3 separate regions of the Homo sapiens genome follow, and regions 2 and 3 are each linked to region 1. The links come from fine-mapping of genetic effects on gene expression. A gene starts in region 1. Each other region holds a variant in brackets. All regions are shown on one strand. Distances are from middle to middle.

Region 1 (8,189 bases):
ATATAGATTAGAGCCATCTTTAGTCAGCGTTTTTAACTTTTTTTGTGCCATGGCCCCCCTTCACTAATCTGATGATACCTAAAGATCCCTACTGAGAATAAAGTTTTAAATGCATAAAATGAAATGCAAAGAATTATATGGAAATACAACCTTCAAAACTATTAAAACTCTGCATGGCTCACTGTGCAAGTATAGTGCCACTTTATTAATACATTCAATATAAACAATAAATTTAACTACAATTTCAAAAGAGTAATGAGCATAAACAATACTCTGAAATATTTGCACAAACCAGAATATGACATAAAAATATCTATGATGTATATGGATGACAAAGTCACAAGTACTGCTAATAATATTGTGGCTTAGCACCTATGTTCACAATGAAATGCTACTTGTGACTTAGACTAGTATAATTTTTTTCCCATTCAAATTCATGGAACTCCTGAGTTATGCTCATGGAGCCCAGGGCAAGAATTCCTTTTCAAAATTAAGCCTCTTCTGCCCCGCCCCACCCCCCAGACTGAATTAATTACTCTGGGATCCAGCAACACATGGTATAAATTGCTGGTTACCACCTTTCACACGGCCTCCATGGTCAGATCTCTAAGTCATCAAAATAATTGAGTCTTCTTTTTCTTTATTTACCTTTCATGGCTCTGGCACACGGGAAGCACTTAAGGGTCCTAAGCAATTCTATCAGCAGGAGGTGATGCACACAGATTGAACAAAACTCTTACAATCTGCTCAGAGCTACTCGGGAGGTAGTGCAAAGACAGTGGACATGAGTTTCCACCCTTCCCCACCTTGCCTGGCCTCTTTCCTCTTGAAATTCAAGTCTCAAGGTCAAGTTCAGACAAACAGATACACATACTTGGGCTGTCTACTCTAGGACACTCACTGGATTTTACTGCTTCAGGAACTCAAATCTCCTTCTTTCCTCTAACCATCTGTACCAGCCCTCTGCATGGCCCACAGTGACAAGCATCTTTCTCTCTCCCTCCCTTCATGCACTGCCCTGAACTGGGGATTGCCCTTTGACCCAGGTGTGGACAACCAGGCAACACGCTACCCTCCTACACAAAGGACAAAGGGAAGAGTAGAGGCCAGATCTGAAACAAGGCCTCCACCGCAATGCCACTTAAACTCAAACTTCAGGATCCTCTAGGACTGCGCTTTGCAAACTTCAGTATGTTTAAAAATCACCATGAGCAATGATGAAAACAGACTGCTAGAGTCCAGCTCCAAAGATTCTAATTCTGTATCTCTGCAGTAGAGCCCAGGAGTCTGTGTTTTAAACGTTTCCAGGGGATGCTGACAAAGTGAGTCCAGGGGCCACACCTGAAGCAAACTTGCTAAGTTACCCTCACTTCCTCTGACTGGCTGATTTTCAGGGTTTCCAGAGACTTCCGGTGGGTAAAAATTTTCCTTGTGCTTCCTCCTCCTATCCCTGAACTCTTCAGGTCAGGAAGCCTCAAGAGTCAGCACATAAAGTTCTCTATCTTCTTTCACTCCCTTGGTGAACATATCCAGCCTCAGGCCTTCAACACAATCTACACACTGATGACTCCATGGCAACCTGCCATCTCCACTCTTATGTCTAAAAAGCAACTCAAAAAACATGTTCAAAAGAAAAGTCCAGATTTGCCCCTAGAGGTACTTCTCTCCTTTGAAATGAAGAGGAAATATTCTAGTCATCCTTGATTTCTTCCTCGTACTCTACATCCAATCCATCAGCAAATACCTACAAATCAGAACCAGAATCAGATTATTCTTGCTGCCACCGTCCACACCATCATGTCTCACCTGCATTAACGTGACAGCCCCCTAAATGGCCTCTGCATTCCTACTCCTGTTCGTTTCAGTCTACTTCCTACACAGCAGCTGGAGTGATCTTTTAAAAATATAAACTCATATTCTTCTCTGGCCAAAACCATCATTTTACTCAAAACCTTGCACCAAGGTCCTTTCAATGGCCCAAAGACCTTACACTATCTTCCTTCCCAATATTCAGTTTCCCACTTATCCTCCCTCTTTCTCATTCTGCTCAGCTCTGGCTTCCTTGCTGTTCTTCACATGCCCTCATCACCGGGCCTTCGTGTTGTTCTCTTTGCCTTTTTCATCAGATGCCTGCAGGCCCCTCACCTGCTTTGGGTCCCTATTCAAGCACCATTTTCTCAGTGAAATTCATCCCTCATTATCCTTCTCAAATTGGCAAACCAGCACTTCCTACACCCTCCTCTGCTTCATTTTTCTCCATGAAACTGACACCCTACCTACAGTCTATTTTTCTTGTTGACCATCTTTCTCCACCCACAAGAATGTGAACTCTATGAGGGCCAGTATTTCAGTTGGCACCTGGCACACAGCAGGTGCTCAATAAATATTTAAATGGGAGAACGGGAGTAACCTGAACTCAGCTTGCTGATATGGATCCTTGGGTCCTCTTGATGTCATCTTCACAGCAGAAGTGATTTTCTTCTCCAGTTCATGGACTTAGTAATTTGGGTGCTAAGGACTATGCTGGCTGTGTTGGGACCCAAGAGTGAACAGGGCAGACAACGACTCTGTGCTCATGCAGCTGCTAACATTCTAGGTGGAAATCAGCAGCCATAATGAATATCTACTGTGTTCCATGTGCTTAGGATACATTTCTGGACTGCATGGAGCTCACATTGGGGGAGAAAGAGGGTGACAGAAAGAGTTGGTACAAAGGCAGTGGGACAAAGAAGTAATGGGAATAAGAGATAATTGCAGAGGTAGAAATAACAAAACTAAAAGAATAATTCCATGTAGGGATGAAGAGGAGGAGAAATAAATATGATTCTGAGGTTGAAGTCTGAGGAAAACAGGTAAATTATGAAGTTATGATAAAATAATAAGATAGCAAAAGGGAAAGCAGGGTTTTGAAAATTGCAGCTCTAGTTTCTCAAAACTGGAGTTATCAAAAGGTTTAGGTTCGAATTCTGGTTCAGCCACTTTGTAGTTATATTAACACCACAGGAGAGACTTAACCTTTTGAATGAGTCTGTACTTCTGTCAAATAAAGATAATCCTTACTTGCAAAACTAAAATAATTTAAGTTTTTCTCTCTTTCACACACACATGCCTATGTGAATAAACTTCAAAGCCCAGTACGTGGTACACAGAAAATCATCAATATACTATTACCATTGACCCAACCCAGCATTAACCTAGGAATACAGGAACTCATGCATTTAGTAAATGTACATTCAGTGTCTAACAACATCTTAGGAGAATAAACACTAGACATACAGCAGTAAATTAAGATGGAAAAGGTAATTGTTCTCATGGTGCTTACTTTCGGGTGGGTTAATCTCTCTACAAATTAGGTGACCTTTGGTTGCAAAAAGGGCTATGAAGAAAATAAAGCAAACATGATAGATTCCTGTTTTCCAACAAGAATGTAGGTGCTATCAGGTGAACATATGTGGCAGCTGTGGAAAGAGCAACATTAAATCAGGTGGTCAGGGACAGTCTCTAAGAGCTGCCTGACAAATAAATCAGCTGTGAAAAAAGCTGGGATGAGACAAGTCCAGAAGGAAGCATAAGCGCAAAGACCTGGTTTCTGTTTAGAAGGTCTCCTGGCCAGGTCTTACCTGTTAAGTTTTTTTAACTTTTTAAACCTTAGCAACTCATCTGTGACATGGGGATAATAGCTAACATACAAACTTGCTCAGAAAATTCAATAGAAATACATTCATTTATTCAAATATTTATTGGCAAGCCTGGCACTGTCCTAGACACCATGGATAAATAATACCTGGCATATAGTAAGCACTCAGTTAATATACACCATCACAGTTACTCTAATTATTTCTACCCTGCGTTTCTTCAGCATGGCGCTGAAACAGTGTAAGCCTTTACTGACCCAGTGACACACTACTAGGAGCCAAGAAGAGAATACACTAAATAAAGACACTGGGAAATTCCTCAAACCTCCCCCATTTCTAGGGGAAGGCAGGTGTGGCTAAGGGGTCTGAATGAACATTTGTGATATCAATGGGATGAAGAATGAGGTCACCAAGAGACCTGGCATTGCCACAAAAGAGAACCAAAGTTCACTCACCTGGAGCTCTAGTGTCAAGAGATGTGGGGTTATTTCTCCTTCTTTTATACAATTATCTCCGAGAAACGAACAATTCCAAGAAGGAAGCCTGTGAAAGAAAAATGAACAGCAGGATAACATGATTTAATCCCAATTCCCACCACGCCACAGGGGGAAATCTCTCAGTGCCAGCTGGATGTAATCTACCCCTTCCTGTAATCTACCCTCGCTACTTGCTTCAGGAGCCGAGGAAAAGAACCTCTCTTCCTACAGGACTCAGAGTACAAGGGACACGCCATTCCTGATGCCCAAAGAAACCGTCTACAAGCCTACTTTCACTGCCCCTTTCAGGAGACAAGGAGAATCAAGACAAAATCTCAAGATTTTAATCCAGAGCTGACTGTCACATGCTGTGGGACACTTACAAGTGAAATTCTGCCTGTGTGTGCTTAGGCGGCTACAAAAAGCAGAGCCAGCAACGATACAGCAAACCAACTCCTAGGACTTGCACAGCGCTTAATACATTTCAAAGGATAAAATTAGAACACAGGGAATCAACTTCCTGTTTACAGAAATGACTTCGCAGAAAACTCTGAAATTACTCCACAAGTGGGTGGGCGGCTACCCTGAGAAAATTCATGTCATCGATCCGCAACTGACACAGTGGAGTCTCCCGCACTGCAGATCTCATCTCAAAGCCAGAGCTGGCCTCAAACTGCTTTTCCAAGCCTGGACTGCGAGGGCTGCCGACCCGGGCCCACCCCGCACAGGCGCTCAGAATGTTCGATACGTGCGCCTCCTTACACCCCTGCCTCACCAGGCCGAGCTCATGGAAATCCGTGGGCTTCGACCCTCCGCCGCACGTTGTCCCTTCACACTGGTCCTATAGAGCCGATCCTAATTCCCATGGCCTGACAGTACAACCGCATGGAGATGCACGTCTCTAAGACGCCTCACCACTGCCTAAGAAGCAATCAAGGTGACGCGCCCACCGGAAACGGAAGTAGTCGACTCGAGGTGTGGGACTACCTTTCCCAGAACCCTCCGCAGCGCAGTCCGATCCTAGGGGCGATGGTGTCGTAAATGCGCGTCCACCTCGAGTCACGCCCACTGCGAGGCGGCGGGAGGCGGCATGCAAGGTGTTTCTGAGTTGAAAAGAATGTCTTTACTCAGTACTAACATATTCGCGTTGTAGCAAACCTGACTATATTCTCAAACAAGCCCATCATCCCATCACCAGGGATATAAAGCATTATTGATTTTCTGGTGTAAAAGCCAACTAAATATTTATTTCAAAAGTAGTTCATATTACATGTAAAGAATGGTTTAAAAAAAATTCTTACTTAATCCCTGGTTTATGTGAGTAAATATGAATTCTTAAGAATCCCATTTCCCAAATGGCATCATAATATTTTGTAATCATTTCTTGCCACAGGTCATATATCGTGGATAGTTCTGTATGTCACAAAAGACGTAGAGATACATAGAGATAATAAAAAAACACAAATTATTTGCAATACTTGCCTAGCATTCTTTAGTTTTTAGGGAAGTTACCCCTTTGTCCTGCATTGAACTTACACTTCTAATTTTATGATATCAAAACTACACACAATCACTTTCTTTAATATTTTCCCAATTTGATGGACTAAATATCCTGTCTTATTTTCCCAATTTGACAGAGTAAATATGCTTATTACCGATTGCATTTCATTGTCATCTTTTATTGTCATACACTCTCTGTGTATGAATGATATCGCTTCTAAGTGATGAATTGCTCCCCCAGTTTCAACATTTATAAAGTAGTTTAGAAAAAAAAAAAAACAAAAAACTTCATCTGACAAGGTATATCAGTCTTTTCATTTGTGGCTTCTTTTTTTTCTCCAGTATGACCAAAAAGACATTCCTTAGCCTGATTCCCAATAAGTGCATATCTATATTCATTTCAGGCTCTTTCATTTTTCTTTTGAATCACCGCGTGATTCATTTAAGTGTATGATATGAAAGGAAGATGGAGTTTCCTGTTTCACCAAAGGATTGTCTACTTTTCTTAACAAAATTTACATAAATATTAATTCTTTCCTTTCTGATTTAAACGGCATCCTAATCACTTACTACATTACTATATATATAATGAAATATTTTCTGGGATACAAGTGTGTTCTGAAGATAGAGATTGCTTTTTCTGTGCCATGATGAAAGGTTTCAGTTACAGTGATAACTCATTTCCTTATCTCTCCCTCCTTGTTGTGTTTCAAAAATTTCATCCTAGAAGTTCTAGAACTCTCTCTTATAAACAGATTATCGAATTGTTTTGATAAATTCTAAAAAATTGCCAATTGACTCCAAAGCATCCAAGCCCTTCAGATATTTGGTTCCAAACCCACCCCTCTTTGCTTGGGTAGACACAGTCCTACTTCCCATCCTGTGTCCTCCAGTTTTACAAATGTCTGAATTTGCTGCTATTGTTCTTCCCTCTGTAAGTCCATCCTTTCCTGTACTATTAAAATCTTACTCCATATTTAAGACACAACTTGAATATAATTTCCTCTATCGAGTGTTTTTGAACTCTATATCATAATTCAATGAACAGATCAGTCTGTGATTGGGAGAATTTCATGCGAGTGTAGTGGATGTTAAATACCACTCTCAGAACATTCTCATTTCCCCGAGAAATCAATAAATTATATTACTCTGGGATCCAGCAACACATGGTTTAAATTGCTGGTTACCACCTTTCACATGGCCTCCATGGTCAGATCTCTAAGTCATCAAAATAATTGACTCTTCTTTTTCTTTATTTTCTTTATTTACCTTTCATGGCTCTGGCACATGGGAAGCACTTAAGCAATTCAATCAAGTGTCTTGGCCGGGCACGGTGGCTCATGCCTGTAATCAGAGCACTTTGGGAGGCCGAGGCAGGCAGATCACGAGGTCAGGAGATCGAGACCATCCTGGCTAACACGGTGAAACCCCATCTCTACTAAAAATACAAAAAAGAAAACAAAAAAAATTAGCCGGGCATGGTGGGGGGTGCCTGTAGTCACAGCTAGTCAGGAGGCTGAGGCAGGAGAATAGTATGAACCCGGGAGAAGGAGCTTGCAGTGAGCCGAGATCAAACCACTGCACTCTAGCCTGGGCGACAGCGCAAGACTCCATCTCAAAAAATAATAATAATAAAATAAACATAAAAATAATTATTTTAAAAAGGTGTCTTGACCTGGAAGCTAAGAGCCAACCTGCACAAAGTGTGGGTAGATGAATCCATTCCAAGGCCCAAGGTAAATATTCAGCCTTCATCCTACCTCATACAAACTGCAAAACACTGTAGAAACCGTGTGTCAACTGAATTTGAAACTGCTGTAATTTCCGACTCCCTAACAGTTTTGTTATTGTTAAGAAAAAATAACCCAATTTTAAGTAGGCAAGGTATTTCCGTAGACATATCTTAAACGAAAATAAACAAATAGGCAAGAGACACATGAAATGACTCTCCACATCCTCAGTCATTAGGGAAATGGAAGTCAAAACAATGGTGCTACTTCACACTCACTAGAATGGTCAGGATTGAAAAGCAGAAAATAGGCTGGGCACAGTGGCTCACGCCTGCATCCCAGAACTTTGGGAGGCTGAGGTGGGCGGATCACCTGAGGTCTGGAGTTCGAGACCAGTCTAGCTAACATGGTAAAGCCCCTTTTCTACTAAAAATACAAAAAATTAGCTGGGTGTGGTAGCATGCATCCGTAATCCCAGCTATTCGGGAGGCAGAGGTTGCAGTGAGCCGAGATCGCACCACCGCACTCCAGCTTGGGCAACAAGAGTGAAACTAAATCACACACACACACAAAAAAAAAACAGAAAATAAAAAATGCTGACGATCATGTAAAGAAGCTGTAACATTCCGGCACTGCTGGTAGGAATTTCAAAATCTACAGCCATATTGGAAAATAATCTGGAAGATCCTCAACATGTTAAACATCATAGAAGTCTCCAAATGATGCAGCAATTCCACACCTAGGTATGAACCAAGAGAAAACATTTGTCCAAACTAAATATTGTACAGGAGTGTTCATAGCAGCATTATTCAAAGAAGTAGAAATCCATCACCTTAAACGGGTGAATC
Region 2 (8,189 bases), 23 kb after region 1:
TTAATCTAGAGAAATCTGCCCATCTACTTTATTCTCTCCTGCTGTTGACTTGTCGTAGAAACCAAGTTTGGTGTCCTGTGTTCTTTCCTACATTTGGAATGCATTTGTTTGCTTCCTTTTGGTGTCTTTCAGTGTGTTACTCTATCCACAGTATTTTTTGTAAGTGGAAGCACCAGATGCTTGAATAGATTCAGGTTCAAGGTTTTACAAGAATATTTCATAGATGGTTTTACAAGAATACTTCACAAAGGAAAAGATTTAAAGATGTTTTGCATGTATTTATTGGTTTATAAATTTGGTTTCTTAATATTTGGGGGCTGTCCTTGTACCTGCATCCTATGGCATTCCCTGCCTAGGATTCCTACCACCCCAAGTAGGCTTCAGGGTATCTGTATTTCCTGAATGATTAATTCCAATTCAATTTTGTTGCCTCCCACAGAAGAAGGATACAGTAGTGTTACTGACAGAGCAGTGCTATTAGGACAACTGTGCTGACTCCCCTAGATTTTGTTTTTAATCATTGTCAGATTTTGGTAATTGGACAATTGTTAGTAACATATTCTTTTTGAAGTCCTTTATAACTGCTTACAACTTTCGTTTGAAAGCTCTGCTTTATTTAGAGATGCAGAATCTATTGAGAGAACATATCTGTAAATACTCGACTCTGAGCAGTGTGACATATGCAGTGATAGAAATATTTTATGTAAAAATTGGTGTCTTGATTAGGAGATGGTTATTAATATCAGATTATTCCCCGCATCCTTTTATTTTAAGAAATTTCAATTTATCGAGAAAATGAAAGAATAGCATAATGTGTAATCTTCACCTAGATTCACCAATTGTTAACAATCACCACAAACATATGCATAATATGTGTATATACACACACATATCTATATTTTATTTTGATGACCCAGTTGGGATAAATTGCAGACATCATTATAATTCATCCCTAAATATGTCAGTTTATATCTCCTAAGAATAAGAGCATTTTCCTACATTTCCACATTACTGCTAACATACTCAGGAAATTTCACATTGATACCATTATTTTTTAATAGTTGATATCCAAATGTTCTAAATTATCCTAATAATCTCCCTCTTCCCTTTTCTGTTTTTTGAATCTAGGAGCCAATGCTTTAAGTTACCCTGTCTTCTTACTTTCCTTTAACATGATAAAAATAGATTAATCTGCCATGAAAAAGTGAAAATACCAAACCTTGGTGTGTGATGGGAAATGAACTCATGAAACACTACTGGACTTATGTATCAGCACAACACCTTAGTATAGATTTATCTGCGCCTGTGTCCTGGGCCATATTTTATAATTTGATTAATATTGTCCTTTGGGAATCCCTGATTCAATAGGATTAGTATCCTTATGAAAAGAGACTCAACAGAGCTTGCTCTCATTCTCCCTCTGCCATGTAAGGACACAGTGAGAGGACAGCTGTCTACAAGCCAAGAGAAGAAACCTGAATGAAACCTATCTTGGTGGTACTTGATCTTAGACTTTCCAATCTCCAGAACTGTGAGAAATAAGTTTCTTTTGTTTGTTTAATCTAACCCAGACTATGGTATTTTATTAAGGCAGCCCAAACAGACTAAGACCAGTCATTTGTGTGGATGATTGATGTGGCATGTGGTTGATGTTTTAGGAAAGGGTGATATTCAAGGACGTGGCTGTTGTCCTCACCAAGGAAGAGCTGGCACTATTGGATAAAGCCCAGATAAACCTGTACCAAGATGTGATGTTGGAAAACTTCAGGAACCTCATGTCAGTGAGTGAGTAACTGAGCATCAGACCACTGGACCTGTTTCCTCAAATCATCATTTCAAGCCAGATAGAATATTCCAGTTAGACCACAAAGAGAAACTTTGACCACTGGAGAGAAAAATCCTAAGAGCTGCATGCACAAGTTAGGACCCTGCAGTTAATGAGCTTTTACAGATCATTGTGAGGATGTGGCTCCTTGTGATGGGTTTGTGAGGGAGCTCTCCCCAAATCTTCCACCCCTGGCCTGTGGGCATTCATTGCAGGAAGTAAGCCCTTCCTCCCCTACTCACATATTTAGGCTCTCATTCTTTCCTCATATTTCTCAGAATGAGACTGATAAAATTCACACACCACCAAGGACCTTGATCTATTTGTTGCTTCTGGAGAAAAGTCAATGTTTATCCAATGTTCTGGATAAACCAGTGTTAATGGAATCATGGGAGAACTTTGATTTTGTTGGAAGTTACAACAGCCAACACTTATGGGTATATAGTAAGTGTAATCTAAGTGTTGGCTTATTTGATTACTTTTTGATAAATATCCAACCTCATTTTCATTTCTCAAAGTTTCATGTACAGTTAGGTATTACCTAAGTTTAGTTTATAAGATAGTGATATGGTTTGGCTGTGTCCCTACCAAAGTCTCATCTTGAACTGTAGTTCCCATAATTCCCATAGGTTGTGGGAGGGGCCTGGTAGGAGGTAACTGAATCATGGAGGGGGGTCTTTCTCGTGCTGTTCTCATGATAGTGAATAAGTCTCATGAGATCTGATGGTTTTATAAATGGGTGTTCTGCACAAGATTTCTCTTTGCCTGCCACCATGTAAAACGTCCCTTTGCTCTTCCTTTGCCTTCCACCATGATTGTGAGGCCTCCCCAGCCATATGGAACTGTAAGTCAATTAAGCCTCTTTCATTTATAAATTACCCAATCTCAGGTATGTCTTTATTAGCAACGTGAGAACAGACTAATACAGATAGTTGATGTTATTATCCCCCTTTTATGGATGTATTACTCTGTTTTCACACTGCTGATAAAGACATATCCAAGACTGGGCAATTTACAAAATATGAAGGTTTAACGGACTTACAGTTCCACGTGGCTGGAGATGACTCACAATGATAGCGGAGGTGAAAGGCACGTCTCACATGGTGGCAGACAAGAGAAGAGAGCTTGTGCAGGGAAACTCCCCTTTCTAAAACCATCAGATCTCATGAGACTCATTCACTGTCATGAGAACAACACAGGAAAGACCCACCCCCATAATTCAGTCACTTCCCACTGGGTTCCACCCATGACACATGGGAATTGTGGGAGTTACAATTCAAGATGAGATTTGGGTGGAGACACAGCCAAACCATATCATCCGCCCCAGACCCTCCCAAATCTCATGCCCTCACATTTCAAAACCAATCATGCCTCCCAACAGTCCCCCAAAGTTTTAACTCAGTTCAGCATTAACTCAAAAGTCCACAGTCCAGTGTCTCAACTGAGACAAGCCAAGTCTCTTCCACCTATGAACCTGTAAAATCAAAAGCAAGGTAGTTACTTCCTAGCTACAGTGCAGGTACAGGCATTGTGTAAATACAGCTGTTCCAAATGGGAGAAATTGGCCAAAACAAATGGGCTACAGGCCCCATGCAAGTCTGAAATCCAGCAGGGCAGTCAAATCTTAAAGCTCAAAAATGATCTCCTTTGACTCCATGTCTTGCATCCTGATCACGCTGATGTTGGGTTTCCATGGTCTTGGGCGGCTCCGCCCCTGTGGCTCTGCAGAGTATAACCTCCCTTCTGGCTGCTTTCATGGGCTGCTGTTGAGTGTCTGTGGCTTTTCCAGGCACATGGTGCAAGCTGTCGGTGGATCTAGCATTCTGGGGTCTGAAGGACAGTGGCCCTCTTCTCACAGCTCCACTAGGCAGTGCCCTGGTAGGCACTGTGTGTGGGGGCTCTGACATGTGGGAATTATGAGACACAACATATAGGAATTATGGGAGTTACAATTCGAGAAGAGATTTGGGTAGGGACACAGCCAAGCCATATCAATGGATGAAACAACTGAGTCACAGAATTAATAACTTGCCCACAATCACACAGCTTATAAGAAGAACTAGGATTTGAACCCTCCTAATCTGGTCCTAGGTCCTGTGATTTTAATAAATAACCTCATGAAACCAAAGCGTAAACTGTAGACACAGGACCTTTTGCATAAATCTGCATATCTCTGCAGTTGTTTCTCAAACTGCAGGATAAAACCCTCTTGGTGAGTCCTGAAATCAAATTACTGTGTCATAACTAGCAATTTTTAAAAAGCAAAATAGATTAATAGAACAGAAAACAAAAGAATTTATCAAAGTACATTGCACACAGTATGTAACTATCAGCTGAGCAAGTTTTAGTGAGCAGTCTGTGTTGATGTTTGTGCCTATTCCTACTGAGTCACAATGCTGATTTTACTGTGGGTTACAATCAAAACAATTGGGAAACCACTGCTTAAACCCTATTCAGGGCAGCTCGTGGTCTCCCTTTCCCTGATACTATCTTATAAACTAAAGTCACTTTCAATAAAACAACCCAGAAAGGACCTTGAACCAGAAGCAGTATCCAGTGGGACTTGACCATGATATTCATGCCATTTTGAAACCCATCTTAGGATCCCAAGAATATGATCGTCCTCTTCTGCCTCAGCCCCCTGTTTGTTATATACCACAGTCTTGCTTCCCTGGGTGCCAGGCCATTGACAGTGCCACAGTATCTGTTCCCCATTTTCATAGTCATGGCTGTTTGAGATTCTGCAACAACTTAAAAGGGCAGAACTTAAGGAAATGGATTGTAGGATCTGAGTGGTCTCTATCTTTTCATGAAGACAAAGAACCTTGGGGAAAATAAAAAGGATGTCTCTTAAAGCTTGTCTCAGAGGTTTACATACGCATCCCCGCACAACGCCAGGACCATATTTCACAATGTTTACCCCATTTCAATCCCCATTGCCTTTTTATCCCCATCCCCTTTAGGCTCACCATGTACAGTTGTGCAGGTTGTACACAAACATACATGATAGTCCTCCATATGACAGTGATGTGAAGGAAGGGAAGC[C/T]ATCAGGAGATAGGACTTGTTGCTTGTTTCTGAAACCTCTTGTGACCCTTTGTGTCCCTTACTCTGCCCAACATATAAAAAACACTCCATCAATATGTATTATTTATATACACACACACACTACATAAAATGGGAGCCTTTCCCATACCTTTTGTAGCAAGATTATTAAAGGCTTTTTATCGACTACTCTTATAGCAGGGAGGTGAATTTCTTCCTTCATAAATTTTTCCTAAGATTTCCTTTTTTTTCTTTTTTGCAGAGTAGGGGTGGAAAGGTCTTGCTCTGTCACCCAGGCTGGAATGCAGTGGCACAATCTTGGCTCACTGCAACCTCTGCCTCCCAGGATTAAGCAATCCTCCAACCTCAGATTTCCAAGTGGCTGGGATCATAGGCAAAACTGAGCCAATTTTTAATTTTTTTGTAGAGATGGGATCTCATCATATTGCCCAGCCTGGTCTTGATCTCCTGGGCTTGAGTGATCCTCCCACCTCAGCCTCTCAAAGTGTTGCTATTACAGGCATGAGCCACTGCACCTGGCCAAGATTTCTTTTAATTTCCCTACAACACTTGATTTCCAATTGGCAGCTCACAGGTTAGAATTACCGTGGCTCTAATTGTTTCATATGTCAATAGAAGCCAGGGACAACTTCCCACCCCATCATATTTCGTTTTCTCAAAACCTCTGGACAGATGATTGACTTGGTCTCTTAGCCACATTCTCTTTCTTCTCATAAGAGATGGGATTAAAAACAACATTTTGAATCTTCAGGAAAAGGGGTTGAATTACCTTTTACAAGAAGTGCTTCATTGCTGGCAGATTTCGAAACAAAGGATCCAGGATTTAACTGGGAGTCAGGATTATATCATGAACCTTCAAGAAGAGTGTTCCCCACATTTAAAAATGTTTCCCTCTGTGAAGAGTGAGCAGGCAAGTCTCTTCAGATTTCTGAAAATGAAAACTATGTAGCAAATGTCATTATCAAAAATCAGGATATCACAGCATGGCAAAGCCTGACACAGGTTCTTACCCCAGAATCGTGGAGGAAAGCCAACATAATGACCGAGCCCCAGAACTCTCAGGGAAGATATAAGGGAATTTACATGGAAGAGAAATTGTACAGACGTGCTCAGCATGATGACAGCCTCAACTGGACCTCACATGATCATCATGAGTCCCAAGAATGTAAAGGAGAGGACCCTGGTAGACATCCCAACTGCAGGAAAAACTTTGGTATGAAATCAACAGTTGAACAACATAATGCAGTCCATGTATTACCACAGCCTTTCACATGTAATAACTGTGGGGTGCCCTTTGCAGATGATACAGATCCTCATGTCCATCACAGCACTCACCTAGGAGAAAAATCTTATAAATGTGACCAGTATGGAAAGAACTTTAGTCAGAGCCAAGATCTTATCGTTCATTGTAAAACTCACTCTGGCGAGACTCCCTATGAATTCCACGAATGGCCTATGGGCTGCAAACAGAGCTCAGACCTTCCCAGATATCAGAAAGTCCCTTCAGGAAACAAACCCTACAAATGTAAAGAATGTGGCAAGGGCTTCAGGTGCAACTCCTTCCTTTATAACCATCATGGAGTCCACACAAGGGAGATGCCCTACAAATGTGATGCATGTGGGAAAGGGTTTGGATTTAGGTCACTTCTTTGTATTCATCAGGGAGTACACACAGGGAAAAGCCCTATAAAAGTGAAGAGTGTGGGAAGGGCTTTGATCAGAGCTCCAACCTTCTTGTCCATCAGAGAGTCCACGCTGGAGAGAAGCCCTACAAATGCAGTGAGTGTGGCAAGTGCTTTAGTTCAAGCTCCGTTCTTCAAGTCCACTGGAGGTTTCACACAGGGGAGAAACCTTATAGGTGTGATGAGTGTGGAAAGGGCTTCAGCCAAAGTACACACCTTCACATTCACCAGAGAGTCCACACAGGGGAGAAACCATACAAATGCAATGTGTGTGGAAAGGATTTTGTGTATAGCTCTGTTCTTCACACTCATCTGAGTTCACACTCGAGAAAAACCATATAAATGCAAAGTGTGTGGAAAGTGCTTTAGTTACAGTTCATATTTTCACTTACATCAAAGAGATCACACCAGAGAGAAACCATATAAATGTGATGAGTGTGGTAAAGACTTCAGTCGGAATTCAGATCTTCGTGTTCACCTCAGAGTCCACACAGGAGAGAGGCCCTATAAGTGTAAGGCATGTGGTAAGGGCTTCAGTCGTAATTCATACCTCCTTGCCCATCAGAGAGTGCATATAGATGAGACACAGTACACACATTGTGAGCGTGGCAAGGACCTTCTGACTCATCAAAGACTACATAAGCAGAGAGAAACATTATAAAGGTAGTAAGTCAGGGTTCAATTAGGAAAACAGAAGCCACACTGTATTCCAGATGATAGAGGCTAACTCAGCCTTTGGGAGGGCTGGGGGAGCAAAAGACAGGGACGCTGCCATCGATGAGGTCAGCATGACAGGCTGGGGGTTCGCGCTGGCACAGGCGCCGGCAGCCACATCGGCAGGCAGGAGGGTCCCGCTGCACAGCTGAGGGGTGATGATTGCCTGGGTGGTGATGTCGGCCATTAGACGCGCCTCTTCTGCCGGCAAGTGTGTGGCAGTATGAAGTAGAAGGACAAGCCTGTATTTGAGGCTGGAATGCGGAAGGGGCTCTTCTGCGGCTAGGTGTGGGACCCTGAGCAGGAATGTGGAGAAATGGGCAGGTAAATGCATCACGTTGGCCAGGAGATTTGCAAGGACTTACAGCTGAATGATGATAATGGGGAGTGACTGTGAGGCCCTGGGAGTCTCTGAGTGTAAAGGAAGATAGGTGTGGGGCCCCCAGGGAGTATGTGGGAGCCATTGCTGTGTAGGTGGAGGTAGTTGGGGAATAATCTGGTGAGCTCTGTGAATTTCTAGGGTTCTCCTGAATGCTGAGGGGTGACTCTTGCAGAAAACTGAGGATGCTTGGAGAATAGCTGGGAGACACAGATGAGGCCCTAAGGAATGGTGGTATAGAGGTGACAGAGATAAGGGAGGAGCACAGTGAGGTCTATGAGTTTCTGGGTGACTCCTGTGTGTTCAGGGCTGACCCAAGGAGAAATCTGGGGATGGTTGGAGAGGAGCTGGGAGACACAGGAGAGTCCCTGAGGGTTGCAGGTGAAGAGATGGGAGACGTGATAGAAGAGGGCCCTGAGATTTTTGTCTATAGGTGATACTTGGGTTTGGGAAGCTGAATGTTGCAGTAAGCTGGGGATTGAGAGAATCTGGGAGACACAGGAGAGTACCTGAGGGCCTGGAGTAA
Region 3 (8,189 bases), 21 kb before region 1:
ATGGTGGCCATTCTCTTGATATTGATTCTTCCTATCCATGAGCATGGAGTGTTTTTCCATTTGTTTGTGTCCTCTCTTATTTCCTTGGGCAGTTGTTTGTAGTTCTCCTTGAAGAAGTCCTTCACATCCCTTGTAAGTTGTATTCCTAGGTATTTTATTCTCTTTCTAGCAATTGTGAATGGGAGTTCACTCATGATTTGGCTGTTTGTCTATTGTTGGTGGATAGGAATGCTTGTGAATTTTGCATGTTGATTTTGTATCCTGAGACTTTGCTGAAGTTGCTTATCAGCTTAAGGAGTTTTTGGGCTGAGATGATGGGGTTTCCTACATATACAATTATGTCATATGCAAACAGAAACAATTAGACTTCCTCTCTTCCTATTTGAATATGCTTTATTTCTTTCTCTTGCCTGATTGCCCCAGCCAGAACTTCCAATACTATGTTGAATAGGAGTGGTGAGAGAGAACATCCTTGTCTTGTGCTGGTTTTCAAAGGGAATGCTTCCAGATTTTGCCCATTTCATATGATATTGCCTATGGGTTTGTCATAAATATCTCACTATTTTCAGATATGTTCCATCAATACCTAGTTTATTGAGATTTTTTTTAGCATGAAGGGATATTCAATTTTATCTAAGGCCTTTCTTTATTGAGATAATCATGTGGTTTTTGTCATTGGTTCTGTTTATGTTATGGATTATGATTATTGATTTGCGTATGTTGAACCAGCCTTGCATCCCAGGGATGAAGCTGACTTGATTGTGGTTGATAAGCTTTTTGATGTGCTGCTGAATTTGGTTTGCCAGTATTTTATGGAGGATTTCCGCATTGATGTTCATCAGGGATATTGGCCTGAAATTTTCTTTTTTTGTTGTATCTCTGCCAGGTTTTGGTTTGAGGGTGATGCTGGCCTCATAACATGGGTTATGGAGGAATCCCTCTTTTTCTATTGTTTATAATAGTTTCAGAAGGAATGGTACCAGCTCCTCTTTGTAGAATTCGGTAGAATTTGGCTGTAAATCCATCTGGTCCTGGGCTATTTTGGTGGGAGACTATTAATTACTGCCTTAATTTCAGAAATTGTTATTGGTCTACTCAGGGATTCGACTTCTTCCTGATTTAGTCTTGGGAGGATTTATGTGTCCAGGAATTTTTCCATTTCTTCTAGATTTTCTATTTATTTGTGTAGAGGTATTTATAGTATTCTCTGATGGTAATTTGTATTTCTGTGGGATCAGTGGTGATATCCTGTTTATAATTTTTCGTTGTGTCTATTTGATTCTTCTCTCTTTTCTTCTTCATTAGTGTAGCTAGTTGTCCATGTAATTTTGTTAATCTTTTCAAAAAACCAGGTCCTGGATTCATTGATTTTTTTGAAGAATATTTCATGTCTCTATCTCCTTCAGTTCTGCTCTGATCTTAGTTATTTCTTGCCTTCTGCTAGCTTTTGAATTTGTTTGCTGTTGCTTCTCTAGTTCTTTTAATTGTGATGTTAAGGTGTTGATAGGAAGGCTGGGCACCTTCCTATCAGGTAGATGGTCTAGAGCTCCAGACAGCACCAACTCCTCCTCATGGCCTCTTTCTCCTCCTACAACTCTTCATTCTCAAGCCTCAGCCCTTTCCCGAGATAGGAAGGACAAGACCATGTTTCAGGTTGGTTGTTTTCTCTTGTGAAATACCACCTCAGGCATCAGAAAGCAAACATACCTCCCCCGCTGGTAAAAGGAAAAAGAGTGAAAATGTATTGTGTGAATACATTACATTTCTATGTGAGGCAGAGTGTGTGATTCTGTTTTAGAGATGAAGAAAGGAATGGTGGATCTCAGACTTAAACCCAGGTCAGTACGACTTCATGATCTGCCTTTCTGCTCTGCTTGCTGCCTGCCTATGATAGCTTCATGCAAGGGCCCATGCCCAGATTATGCAGAGAGATGACTCTTAATGGTTGCACTCTTAGTGGTTAAAATAGGGTCTGACATAGTATCTATTGACTGGCCAAATGTCAGTAGTAGCCATTCGAGAGGCTGAATGTGATATACAGTCACTCCTGAGGGCCAAATTGCACAATCCCATGTTACACTGTGACTCTGGGGTTCAGTGCAACAGGCTTAGGTGTTTTCGGTATTCTTAGCAACACATCTGGATGCAAGAGATTGCTCAAGTCATCTTAAAGGCATAGTGTTACTTCACAAAGCCCTTATTATACTTGAGATATGTGCATTCAGGCTGACGACTGTCCTGAAGTATAGTTGCAACTTGTTTAGATCCACAAATGCTTCTGGGATATTGGTATCCTTTGTATCTGAACCCACCTTACCAAACGGCCACATCAACTTCTTGGTAGGACACAATGTTACTATCAGCATGAACCTTATATTCTGACCAGACCCATCTCCCCTACCAACCCACTCCAGTTAGAGACAACTTGCTTAATATCTGTCTCTATGTACTACCAGATTTTATTTCCAATGTTGTCCCCACAGACGGGCTGCTTTTACAACTCTGCAAATCCCCTTAAACTTGTATTAACCTTTCTACCATATAGCATTAAAAAAAATGACACCAGAGAGTAACACCTCATTTTATCTCATAGAAGGCACTGAATTCCTACCCCTACAGTAACCCATTGCACAACAGTTGCAGCTTTCTCTCCTTAACTGTCTGTATACCTTACTGCCACTGAAATCCTAGCAGCTGGGTGGCACCTGAGTAAACTTTAGGCAACCCCGTGAGACCTCAAGGACTGCAGACCCCAAAGTAGAAAAGAGACAACACAAGTGCACAAGGCAGACTCACTGTTGGCATGTCCATCCTATCCACATTAGTCTCCCATGATTACATAGGTGGTGTGGTTTTAAGATGTGACCCCTCCCCTTAAGTGTAGCCTAGACTTAGTACTCATGAATATAGCAGAAGTGATGGTGACTTAAGAGACTGGGTCATAAAAGGCACCCTGGCTTCTGGCTTGCTCTCTCCTTTCTGATTACTTACTCGGGGGGATGTCAGTTGCTACAAGATGAAGGCCTTTAGCCCTGGGAGGCCCACAAGGTGAGAAACTGAGACCTCTATTAACAGCCAGCAAGGAACTGAAGGCTCCTGCCTGAAGTGATCTTGGGAGCAGACCTTGTAGGCCCCAGTCCAGCATTCAGATGACTGCAGCCCCTGCCAACATTTGACAGCTGCCTCCA[C/G]AACACTGGGGGAGATACTGCCCAGAATTTGAGGAGTCTGCTGACAACCTCTGGGAATACAGAATGAGTTAAACTTTTCAGCCACAAACTTTGAGGTCTGAGGGGTGTCTGCATTTGTTCTGTTGGCCATAAAACCCTACATCCCAAGTGACTCTGCTGCAGTTCCATAAATTACTTTTCATCCCTACCCCTTGCCCCCTTCTGAAACCTTATTTCCCACGGTAAATACTTTGGTTATCTATATATAAAGTGCCTGTTCCCCACCTCTTGACATGTCTTCTCTCTTTGGCAGCTCCAGGCAGCAGAAGGCTCAGACCAGAGCAGACCCAGGTCTCCTGAGTCACCAAGACAGAGAGCTTATCCTGGAGGAACACATGATGGTGTGCTGCCCTCTACAAAACCAGGCTTGTGGGCTCACTAGTTCAAGAAGGCAGGACTGAAAAATGGAAACACCGTGGCTCCTAATTATCTAGACTGCCTCATCTCCTACCAGCCAGCAAAAATGATGTAGCCTCTGAGAATATTTACATCACTCATTTGTATGCCTTATCTTTGGTACAGGGAGTTGGGTGAACAGGAGAAAAAGCCAAAAAAGTTATAGAGGTTACAACATGAATCTTTAATCATAAGGGATTGTTCCATCAGGCTAATTTATAAAAAATAGCTCTACTGTTATTATAAAACTGAAAGATACTTTGTTACAAAGTAAAATACATAAAAGTACAACATATGTATTATACATTCAGAATCCCACCACTAGAGATAAGTAGTTATATGTCCTCTCCCACATCTTTTTTTCTCTGTTGCTCTAAACATACACACAGAAAAACATACTAACAAAATGGGGTCATGCTATAATTGTTGTTCTAAAACTCTCCTGGTTCACTAAATACTTCATGAGCAACCTGCATTGTCATTATCTGTGTGCCTGAAGATTTCTAGTGGCTTTCCATTGCATACATATGCCTGAACTTATCTAAAAAATTTCCTACCAATGGAAACTGGAATATTAACATTTGCTATTTTAAAAATGTTTTAAATTTAAAAACTCCACCTTCTGCATGCGTTTTTGCCCAAGTGGGCAACTATCTCCCAAGTATCAATTACTACATATTTACTGCCACTTCAAAGGTTATAGAAATTGAATTGATACGTTAATGAATTCTTTTGAAAACAATGCACGGATTTTCTCTCTCACCAATAAGTACATAAGACTTATTACGTCCATTTTTGCACTGCTATAAAGAACTACCTGAGACTAGGTAATTTGCAAAGGAAAGAGGTTTAACTCACACACAGTTCCACATGGCTGGGGAGGCCTCCGAAAACTTAGTCATGGCAGAACGCAAAAGAGAAATAAGGACCTTCTTCACAAGGGGACAGGAGAGAGACAGCGAGGAAGGGCTACACCTTAAAACCATCAGCTCTCATGAGAACTCACTATCATGAGAACAGCAAGGGAGAAATCTGCCCTCGTGATCCAATCATCTCCCACCAAGGCCCTCCTCTGACACGTGGGGATTAAAATTGAGATGAGATTTGGGTGGGGACAAGAGCCAAACCATATCAGACTGTTTCTACAACCCCCCCCCCCGCCCCCACTGATGGGGGATTTGATGATTCTATTTTAATACTGCTAACCTGCAGGGTGAAATAGCATTTGTGATTTTTAAGATACCTAATATTTGATATGTTAAACTATGAAATGAACTGGAGCAAAACCATTATATTCATGACAGCAATAAAACAAATTCCTAGAAATATGCTTAAGATGACTCAGAACCTATTTTTAACCATCTCTAAGAAATATTACTGAGGGACCATATGAAATACTATCAGTGGTAAAAAAAAAGTCATTTTTTTAAAGTGAAAAAAAATCAGCATTTCAAAGACGCCACATTCTTTCAAAATTAACCTATAAATTCAATGCAATGCCAATTAATAAATTTATTTAATTAATAATTCAATGCAATGCCAATCAGATTTTGCTTTTTGAACCTGGAAAGAAGACATATTTCTGTAGTGTACTACAACTCCTCTGAAAGCTGTAAAGCTTACCTGCAAGATAAAACAGTCATAAAAACATGATAAAAATGTGAGACACACACATCACCCAGATCTGCCAAGAGAACTTTGTTCCTGGTCTTCTCAGAGTGACTTGTTTCAATAAATGTTAATGTTATCTTTTTGTTTTTATAAAGCGATCTTTAAAAAGATATGTACCAAACTGGTTTTAGAAAGGTGGAAACTTGTTTCTACACTGTCCCATTGGTAGCTATCAACCCACACAAAGAATCTATGTCCATAATTAGCACCTTGGAAACATTCTCACCACTTGTACATTGTAAAAGCTCCCTCCCAGGCAGATTCTGATGGAAGTGAGGATTATTACTGAAACCACTGCTGCACTGTTTCTTTAAAGCCTACTCCGCTGCACAACAGACTCTTAAAGACTGAAGTTTGTAACTGAAGTGCTAACCTATTTATCACACATCCAGGTGTTCCCTTCCTATGCAGACTAGAAAATGTAAAATCATCAGTTTCTCCTATAGCCCTCCTACATGTCACTTTCCTATGGTTTTTCTCCTGTGTTGGCTCTCAGATGGATAGAAAGCTCTGAGTCCCAGATGGAATCCTCTATGTACATCTACTTATAAGGGTTCTCGCCTAAATGCACTCTTTGGTGGTTCCGCAGACCTGAGGTATAACTGAAGCCTTTCCCACACACACCACACGTATAGGGCTTCTCTCCAGTGTGGACTCTCTGATGAACATGAAGACAGGAGTTGCGGCCAAAGCCCTTCCCACACTCCTCACATTTATAGGGTTTCTCACCAGTGTGGACCCTCTGATGACCTTGAAGATGTGAGCTCTGACTATAGCCCTTCCCACACACGTGGCATCTGTATGGCTTCTCGCCAGTGTGCACTCTCTTATGACTAAGGAGACCTGAGCCATATCTGAAACCCTTCCCACATTCACAACAAGTGTAGGGTTTCTCTCCTGTGTGCAACCTCTGGTGGGTGCGAAGATTAGAGCCATAACTGAATCCCTTGCCACACTGATCACACGTATAGGGCTTTTTTCCCGTGTGGACTCGCTGATGTTTGTGAAGGCTTGATGTGCACCTAAAGCCCTTTCCGCACTCTTGGCATCTGTAAGGTTTCTCGCCTGTGTGGACTCTCTGGTGAATGAGAAGCCCTGAGCTGTAACTGAAGCCTTTGCCACACTCAGCACATTTATAGGGTTTCTCTCCAGTGTGGACCCTCTGATGGATAAGGAGGTCGGAGCTGTAGATGAAACCCTTCCCACACACGTCACACACGTAGGGCCTCTCTCCCGTGTGGACCCTCTGGTGGCTGTGAAGGTCTGAATTCCGCCGGAAGCCCTTCCCACACTCACTGCATTTATAGGGTTTCTCTCCTGTGTGGACCCTCTGATGGATGTGGAGGTCGGAGCTCCGGCCAAAGCTCTTCCCGCACTCGCATTTGTAGGGTTTCTCTCCTGTGTGCAGTCTCTGATGCATGAGAAGCCCTGAGCTGTAACTGAAACTCTTACCACACACGTTACATTTGTACAGATGCTGCCCCATGTGAACTCTCTGGTGAGCTTGAAGGTACGAGTTGTGACTGAAACCTTTGCCACACTTGTCACACTGGTAGGGCCTCTCGCCGGTGTGTGTCTTCTGATGACTGCTGAGGTGGGAGCTGCAGCTGAATCCCTTTCCACACTCGCCACAGCTGTAGGGCTTTTCTCCAGGGTGAATGTGCTGGTGTTTGTGCAGTGCAGACTTGGCACAGAAGCCTTTGCCACACTCGCTGCAGGTGTAGGGCTTCTCCCCTGTGTGCAGCCTCTGATGGACTTGAAGCACTGAGCTGTAACTGAAGCCCTTCCCACACTCGCTGCATTTATATGGTTTCTCTCCAGTGTGGACCCTCTGATGGACAAGCAGGTTTGAACTTCGACCAAATGCCTTCCCACACTCCTCACATTTATAGGGTCTCCTTCCTGTGTGCACCCCTTGATGAATAAGAAGAACCGATTTATACCTGAACCCCTTTCCACAGACATCACATCTATAGGGCATGTCTCCCACAGGGGCTCTGGGGTGGTTACGTATGTGCGTGTTCTGTCTGACGCCCCGACCACGCTCAAGACTCTTAACAGATTTCTCTCCTGTGGGAACTCTTTGATGTCTGTTAAGATGGGCACTGTGCCTCAAGCCCTCACTAAACTCATCATATTGACAGAGTTTCTCTTTCAAAGGTACTCTTGGATGCGGGGGAAGGTCTGCATCGTCCCTGAAGCCATTTCTGTATTCGTTACTTTTCAAGCCATTCTCTCCAGGGTTAATGCGATGAAGTACAGAGTTTTTAATGCAGTCTTTTCTGCATTTATTGCAACCACACGGCTTGTCTATTTCAGGGAATCTGTGATCAACATGACAAGATATCCAGCAAAAGCTGTCATCATCCCAGTTACATTTATATACTGTGTCTTCTGTGTCGAGATTTTTACATCTTTCTTGAACATCCCCTAACTGGTTCACAAACGCTTTTGCCCAAGATCCTTGAATGGGGATTGGTCTTATAGCTCTCCAGGCTGGAAACTGTTGATTTTCTAGACCGATAAGCCCATCCCCTTGTAGACTGTCCAGGAAATTCTCAATTGGAAAACACGGCGTAGATGCTCCTTCCCACCCTTGATGGGGAGCAGCATCTTCTGAGAACTGGAAGTCTTTTCCTTGCAGATTTACTCTACAGTCTTGGCTCCCAGGTAATTCACCTGCCACCTCTTCCCAGATTTTGCATGAGGAGAGCTCTTTGTGTGAAAAGAACCTTAATTCTTCATCTTGAATATACTCCGTATCCTTTCCATTCTTGTCTCCTATGAGGTTAAAGACAATTCAGAGATGAGAACTAGTAAAAGACTGGCTCAGGGACATCAGACTTTCAGACTTGAACTAATAATAGCCTAGAGAAAAATTAGGCTTTATGTATC

The links. PIP is the estimated chance that this variant, and not a neighbour inherited with it, causes the effect.
Region 2: its variant is the best candidate, but not a certain one, in a credible set for the expression of ZNF229 in pancreas (GTEx, PIP 0.83).
Region 3: its variant is the best candidate, but not a certain one, in a credible set for the expression of ZNF229 in fibroblasts (GTEx, PIP 0.84).

Annotation. Positions count from the first base shown.
Region 1 is chr19:44,443,423-44,451,611 of GRCh38, forward strand. ZNF229 (zinc finger protein 229) reads right to left here and starts at 5,050. Exons shown (of 6, transcript NM_014518.4): 1 at 4,887-5,050; 2 at 4,091-4,178.
Region 2 is chr19:44,465,998-44,474,186 of GRCh38, forward strand. It overlaps the pseudogene ZNF285BP. Among named protein-coding and RNA genes, the nearest start is that of ZNF229, 22 kb to the left of the region's middle. The variant C/T (reference allele first, on the strand shown) is at 4,871.
Region 3 is chr19:44,422,468-44,430,656 of GRCh38, forward strand. ZNF229 (zinc finger protein 229) reads right to left here. Exons shown (of 6, transcript NM_014518.4): 6 at 3,787-8,075. The coding sequence ends at 5,836. Among named protein-coding and RNA genes, the nearest start is that of ZNF229, 22 kb to the right of the region's middle. The variant C/G (reference allele first, on the strand shown) is at 3,189.